Homo sapiens: one gene and its partner. The protein of the gene in region 2 interacts with the protein of the main gene of each other region in a biochemical or structural test. Each region holds a gene or a part of one and is shown on either strand. Other genes may lie near its edges. The genes, in order: MFHAS1 and CUEDC1.

What was found.
Region 1: the proteins of CUEDC1 (region 2) and MFHAS1 form a complex in vitro, tested with the Homo sapiens proteins (one large-scale study listed by BioGRID and IntAct).

Annotation. Positions count from the first base shown.
Region 1 is NC_000008.11:8,792,569-8,796,384, reverse strand, and holds part of MFHAS1 (malignant fibrous histiocytoma-amplified sequence 1), read left to right. Parts: intron 1-3,816. UniProt on the Homo sapiens protein: Probable GTP-binding protein. Functions in innate immunity and more specifically the inflammatory response as a regulator of the Toll-like receptor TLR2 and TLR4 signaling pathways.
Region 2 is NC_000017.11:57,882,097-57,885,912, forward strand, and holds part of CUEDC1 (CUE domain-containing protein 1), read right to left. Parts: intron 3,784-3,816; 5' UTR 3,469-3,783; coding exon 3,133-3,468; exon of another isoform or gene 3,076-3,132; intron 1-3,075.

The DNA of each region.
Region 1 (3,816 bases), on a different chromosome or scaffold from region 2:
TTGCAGAATGAAGTTGGCTCTCACATCAAAAACCAGCGCAGGCCCATTCCATGAGCAAAGCCTGCAGAAAGTCAGTAATAGGCCGTTTTCTGTTGCATGGTTCTGATTGCGGAGTCAGTCCCTGAAAATCAAGGGCTGTGCAGTTTGCCACCACCTTGCCCCAAAATGGACTTGAAGACAGAGAACGCACACATGCCAAGTAACTTTCAGATAGAACATTGGGTTACTACTATTCTAGATAACACTCATCCTGTTGGTTTGGGTTTTATGTATGTGTGTTTTTCGTTTTGTTTTGTTTGTATTAAGAACCAAAGAGGCCGCTTTTAAGCTGAGATGAAATGCCTGTTACTTCAAATCCTGAAAAGCAGCAGCCACAGATCTTCTTGGGTCAGATCTCATGATCTGGGTGATGTCAGCACCATGATTTCTCCAGCATAGTATTCATATCCATGCAGCAAACTCGACTCTTTCTTCCTAGCTGGCCACATGGAATTTTTTAATGAAAAAATTATGTATGAATCTAAGCCTGTTTTTAGGGAGCTTGGAAAGTGCGCCTTTGGGAATTGTGACCTGTCATCTCCTCTTGGGAAACTTGCTGTCCGGCTGCATTCCAGGCAGTGTGACAGGCATCCATCTCACCCCTCACATGGCAGCTTCCCTGCCTTTGGTGTGCTCCCTGCAAAGCGAGGGTTCCCAGTGGCATTCTTACTCATTAGCTGCTGCAGTAGAAGTAGAGGGCACTCGGCTCAGTGCCCCGTTTCTCCAAACTGGGAAACTCATTACATAGAACATCCCTAATCTATCCTTGCTGGAAAATATCACCGAACACCCAAGGGAAACTGTTATCTAATGCTCTTGTATTCAGAGTACTATTTAACTATCATGTGCATAGTTTAATTTATCACTGACCCTAAGACATTGTGAATCTTGAAGTGCTTCTTAAATATTAAAATAGGATTACAGAATAACTGTTAAAAGTAATTGCACAATTACTTTTGCACCAACCGAATATTAACCTGAATATCCCCTGTCCTGAACATATCAAACAACGGAAATTTTATTGTTTCTCTTTTAATTTCTTTGAAATTGTACATATTGGTCCCTTTCTTTCAGATACACCTGGGTGAGGATGGATAAGGGGATATTATATGTTTTCTTTTTCTTCTGTCTCTTTTTTTTAATACCCCGCAAGTTCTTAAAGCTCAAGGGGATATTACAGAACCAGCAAGGTATGAAACAGAGGAAACAAAAATTCAATATACTTTGCATTGGCGTAAACTTTCCAGAGCCAAGAGAGACATGAACCTATTGTTTTGCCATAGCCAAGTGCCGTCGAATAGGTGCGATAGAGGTAGGAGTTAAAATATCCATTTGCGCTAGAAACCTTCCTGGCACCAAGCCAGCTTTATCAGTGTTTTCCCATGGGCTTCTTGTACTGCCGCAGAAAGACCACGTTTATACCAACCTGAAAAAAATGTTATCAGCCTCTCTCTCGACAGCGTATTGAACCTGAACGAACAAGCAGCCTAAAGTCATGGGTAAGCGGCGGTACATGGCGCCAGACATCCAAATGCCGAGGAAGCCTCTTTAGGCATTGAACCACTTTTGACCTAGCTATCAGAATCATTTTATTTTGAAAGAGGTTAAAAAAAAAGTCTCATGAAATGGATGACAGCTTTGCAATATAATTCTCAACTCTAAATGAAGGAATGTTCTCTAAGTAGGGAAGTTTCATATTCCTGGCAAGACGTTTCTTGGAAAATTACCATATTTTAGTGCAGCTGCAAGGGGTAAATGATCTCTTGTGTGACTTTATAGAAAAGCACACGTAGATGTGAAGCCTGTGCTCGAGCTGCCCAGTGTTCCCCCACCTTCACCGCCTTAAGCACCCACAGTTTACATCCATGAACACATGGACAAAAACAAACTCATGTGGAGGCCGGGCCAGGCTCCGGGGAAGGTCCCATTCATGGGTGGTTGACAGTGGATTGGAAGCGGGAGATTTGGGGGGATCGGTTAGGATAGCTGGCAAAGAATCTGTGCTTAAGTCAACACAGCTTGGGCCTGAGCCTGAGACTTGGGGTCTCAGCAGGCACTAGACATTGGAAGTCCGGGGCTATTGCACTGGCTTTCAACTCCAGCCGAGGTAACTTAAGCAGGTCACCATAGAGGTCAGGCTTTTTTTTTTCTTTTTTGACAAAGGGTCTCACTCTGTCACCCAGGCTGGAGTGCAGTGGTGCGATCTCAGCTCATTGCAAACTCCACCTCCAGGGTTCAAGTGATTCTTCTGCCTCAGCCTCCTAAGTAGCTAGGACTACAGGCGCACACAACCACACCTAGCTAATTTTTTGTATTTTTTGGTAGAGACGGGGTTTCATCATGTTGGCTGGGCTGGTCTCGAACTCCTGACCTCAAGTGATCCATCTGCCTCAGCCTCCGAAAATGCTGGGATTACAGGCATGAGCCACCGTGCCCAGCCAAGGTCAGGCTTTCTTAATCAGACCTGTTAAGTTAGAATTTCTCAGGGAAGGGACCAGGCATGAGTCACTAAAAAACAGAAGAAGCCACCCAGATGAGTCTAACGTGTGTACACGACTTTCTGATGGTTCAGTTCCAGTCCATGCCTCTAAGGGTGGGTTCCCTGGCCAGTGGGGCCTTAGGACTGCTCTGTGGTCAATACCTGCTCTGCAGCACAAAGGCAAAACTGTCCATGCTGTCTGCTCTCAGCCTCAGCACAGTCCCTCCCACTCTCAGGTAAGGTGAACATATCACTCACTGTTCAAATCAGGAGAGGATTGAGAGTGATGGGACGGCTGTCAGTCATGTTGGGATGATGGGTGCCCTAGAGAAAGCTCCCAGGTAGACCAGAATAATTACCCTAGGTGATTGCTGGCTTTTGTGGGGCTTAGGTGGCTGATCTGGATCTCATGATGGTTTTTAAAAAGACATTCCAAGCTCTTCTTTGGCTGGTTTAGCCCTCTCCTTTATTGGTCAAATCAGAGACTTGTCATTTAACTGCCTGTCTTTGACTAATGGTGCTGCAATGCTTTCTTTATAAAGAAGAAACTGTAGATGACTGTTACCTGATTGGCCTTTTTTAAATGAATTCCAAGCTTTTCTATTTCTTATTTTAAACAATTTGTAGACATTTTATTCCCCCATGGGGAGAGACAGAGAATAAGAAGTAGGTAGTGATATTTTTTTTTTTGTTTTAACAACATGATTTACTCTTATAACTTGTCTCAGTGGATTGGTGGTTGAGGTCTCCACCAGCGTTTCATTGGGAAGAGGTTTCAGGAACAGGATGAAATGCCTCCCCTTCTGCACCTCACCCTCCAGGGAGAAACAGGAGCTGAGTGGCTTCTTCTCCCCCTTGCTGATTATCAGATAGAAATGTGAGTCATTTCCATGCTTTGAATATCTTGAGATGATTTTCAAGGATATCTGCATTTAAGATGAGGTGAACATTCACCTAGTAGCAAATTTGCCTGGGTCGCTCTGAAAAATTCTGGCCTCCTCAAGGATACAGATTGTGACAGATACATTTTTAAAAGCTTTATTGATGTATAATTTCCATACCAGAAAATTCACCTGTGCAATGATTACTAACGTATTTGCAGAGTTGTATTTATACAACCATCACCACAATCTAATTTTAGAACGTTCCTTCACCCCAAAAAGAAATCTCCTGCCTATTTGCAGTTAACTTGTGTCTTATCCAACACCTAGTTCATGCAGTCAGTAAGTTTTTTTTGGTTTGTTTTTTTGGTTATTTTTTTGAGATGAAGTCTCACTCTGTAGCCCAGGCTGGAGTGC
Region 2 (3,816 bases):
GGGTCTAGGCCATTTATCTGACAGGAGATACTTCTCCATGGCAAGGATACCCCTCGGGCCAGCCCACCATCCATCAGCCCCCAGAAAGGGTTTTTTTTTCCAGTCAGCAGTTATTGTCATTCCAGCTGTGGCTCATAAATTTTCCGAAGCACTTTCCGCTGGCTCAGGAGCTGCCTGCCTATGGGCCCAGGCAGAGTTCCAAAGGTGGGGGGTTGGGGAGACTGCCAAGGGAGGGGAGGGGTACCGGGAGGGGGCTCAATTTGGAGAGCAAGATTCTTAGAAAAACAGAAGTGCACACACAGCAAGGGCCTACCTAGGGGGTGGTGAAGCCTTGCAGAGGTCTATAGGACTGTGGGGGCCATGGACAAAGGAGAAAATACTACCCTACCTGCCAGACTGTCAGGGCAAATCAGACTGCAGAAAGGGTCAGAGCTTGCAGAGAGCTTTCCTTCCAGTTCACACTTAAAGCATATACAGTTGACTCTCAAATAACAAGAGTTTGAACTGCGTGGGTCCACTTATAGGTAGATTTTCTTCCACCTCCACCACCCCTGAGACAGCAAAACCAACCCCTCCTGTCCCTCCTCCTCAGCCTACTCAATGTGAGAAGATGAGGATGAAGCCCTTTACGATGATCTACTTCCACTTAATGAGTAGAAAATATATTTTGTCTTGCTTATGATTTTCTTAACATTTTCTTGTCTCTAGCTTACTTTATTGTAGGAATACAGTATATGATACATACAACACACAAAATATATGTTAGTCGACTGTTTATGTTAAGGCTTGAGTTAAGGCTTGAGGTCAACGATAGGCTATTAGCAGTCAATTTCTGGGAAAATCAAAAGTTATATTAAAAAGTGGATTTTTGACTGCAAGGGGAGGATTCACTGCCCCTAACCCCTGCATTGTTCAATGGTCAACTGTATCTGCAGACACACACATACATACGCATACTCTCACTCTCTCTCTCTCCTTCTTTCTACAAAGAGGATCCATATTTTCCAATATTCCTTCCACCACCTACTCCAAGCAGATCAAAGGAGTGGTCTCCCAAGGAGAGAGACAATAGAAAACTGTACAAAGACAGCAGCAACACGTACTCATTCAACAAACACTCCCTGAGTGCTTGCTATGTGCGTGGATTGTCCTGGGTGCTGCAGATGACACAGGGATGAGCCAGATGTCTTGGCCAACAGAGCTTTTCCACCTCTAGGGGAAGTCTCAGCAGCACCCACTAAGGAGGAAAAGCAAGGAGACTTTGCCCTGCAGGATGGCTGATGAACAAGGGTAATAATAATGCCACAGCACAAAGTTTGTGAGGATTAGAAGAGATGACACATCGGGCCAGGTGCAGTGGCTCATGCCTGTAATCCCAATACTTTGGGAGGCCGAGGCGGGCAGATCACCTGAGGTCAGGAGTTCGAGACCAGCCTGGCCAACATGGTGAAACCCCATCTCTACTAAAACTACAAAATTAGCCGGTCATGATGGCACATGCATGTAGTCCCAGCTACTCGAGAGGCTGAGGCAGGAGAATCGCTTGAACCTGGGAGGTGGAGGTTGCAGTGAACCAAGATCGCGCCATTGCACTCCAGCCTGGGCGACAGAGCAAGACTCTGTCTCAAAAAAACAAAAAAACAAACAAAAAAAGAAGATATGATACATCTAAAGCACTTAGGATGATGCCTGGCACGGGTCGGGACTCAATAAAGAGTGGAGTTAAATCCTGCTGGGTCCTGGTCTTGTCCATGGCTGCATGTCCCAGATGGCCCTGTGGACAACACCCCTCTGATTAACAGGCTCTGTGTGCCTCATCCTTCTGCACCAAGCACCTCAGGCTCTGCTGATACTGGGTGGCCAGATGTCCACTGAACTCGGGTGGGACTGGAAAGGACTCACAACCTCCAGCAGGTGGGTACTGATGCAGTACGCAGGTCCCCTCTCTCCAGCCACTTCCCTGGAGAGACTGCTTGGCTATGGCTCACTACTGTTTCCATCAGGCCACAGTCAGAGGGATTTAACTGGCAAGTCTGATTCCTCACTCCCTTTCCGTGGCTATGCTCCCAGGATACAGCCGCACTCTTTTTCTTTTCTTTTTTTTTTTTTTTTTTTTTTTGAGACGGAGCCTTGTTCTGTCACCCAGGCTGGAGTGCAGTGGCATGATCTCGGCTCACTGCAACCTCTGCCTCCCGGGTTCAGGCGATTCTCCTGCCTCAGCCTCCCGAGTAGCTGGGACTACAGGTGCGCACCACCACGCCTGGCTAATTTTTGTATTTTTAGTAGAGATGGGGTTTCACCATATTGGCCAGGCTGGTCTCGAACTCCTGAACTCATGATCCACCTGCCTCGGCCTCCCAAAGTGCTGGGATTACAGGCATGAGCCACCTCGCCCGGCCCCAGCCGCACTCTTTTTCTCAGCGTCAGGGCTTTGTCAACCTCATTGATCTCCTCTCACTCTAGGACCCTGACAGATGGTCCTGCTGCCAGTTCCCTAGCCAGTGAGGCACTATTTCACCTCCCAGACTCTGCACAAGCTGTTCCCTTTGCCTGCACACCCTTCCCCCGGCTTCACTCTTCCTTTGGGTCTCAGCTTAGGGTTTCGGCTTAGCCATCGCTTCCTCTGGGAAGTCACTCCTTTCTGCTGCTTCCACGTCTCCATCGAGCACTTACCACTCTGGCCGTCAGTACCCGACTCGCGCTTCTAGTCCACACTGGACTGTGAGCTCCAGGAGGGCAGAAATTTGGTCTGACTTGGCCACTAGCGGACTCTACGCCTGATGTGGAGTTCAGTATGTTGGGGTGGGGCCCAGGCACCTGCATTTTTAACAAGCACCTTGATTCTGATGCCTCCTGACTCAGGGTCTAGTGCCACGTCTCGCACACCACTGAGTGGGCGCTCAGTGTTTGTTGAATGACTGCATGATTTCTGCCCATAAAATAAGGTGACTGACGGATGGTACTTTTCCCTAGGGGAAGTAAGGCTGCTTGCTAATTAGAACCCAGATAGCGGAGTAACCCAGGTCCTCTTAGAGGTTCCAGTGGTGGTTGGAATTACCCGGGCCGTGCCCCTACCTCCGGGGGGATGCTGTCCTCCAGTGGTGGTTGGAATTACCCGGGCTGCGCCCCTACCTCCGGGGGGATGCTGTCCTCCGAGTCGGAGCTGTCCTCATAGACGCCGCCGCTGCTGCCACCGCCCTCCAGGTTCATCTGCAGCAGCTGGTCGATGGTGGCGTCCACAGCGCCGCTGTTGGCGCGCAGCACGCATTCGATGATGTCGTAATCCATGTTGGGGAACATGGTCTTGAAGTCGTCCATGGCCTGGTTGAACTCCAGGCGGCGCACCTGGCGGGCAGGCCGGCTGTTGTTGAGCTCCTGGGGGGCGGCCGTGCCTCCCCCGCCCCCGCGTGCCCCGGCGGTGCCACCCCCGCCGCTGCCGCTGCTGCTCCGGCGGAACAGGCTGGTCATTTTGCGGAGCCGCTTGGGGAAAATGTTTCTAGCCGGCCGCAAAGCCCCTTCCCCAGGGTCTTTCCGCCGTCAGCCGCTTACTTGCCCTGCGGTCTCGGGCAGCTCACTCCTGCGCCTCCTCCTCCCCGGGTAGCCAGGCAGCAATGGGCTGCCAAGAGCTCCGGGTTAGGAGAGTACGGGCGCGGGGCCCCAGGCAGCCCTTGGAGAGCGGTCCTCGCGGGGCGGTGGCATGCGGGACCGGGCCGTGCTGGGGCTGGGCGGCCGGTCATCCACACCCCCGGTGCATCCTGGCACCGGTTTCACGGATGGTCCCACCTGAAACCGAAAGAGATGGAGTCAGGGCCGAGG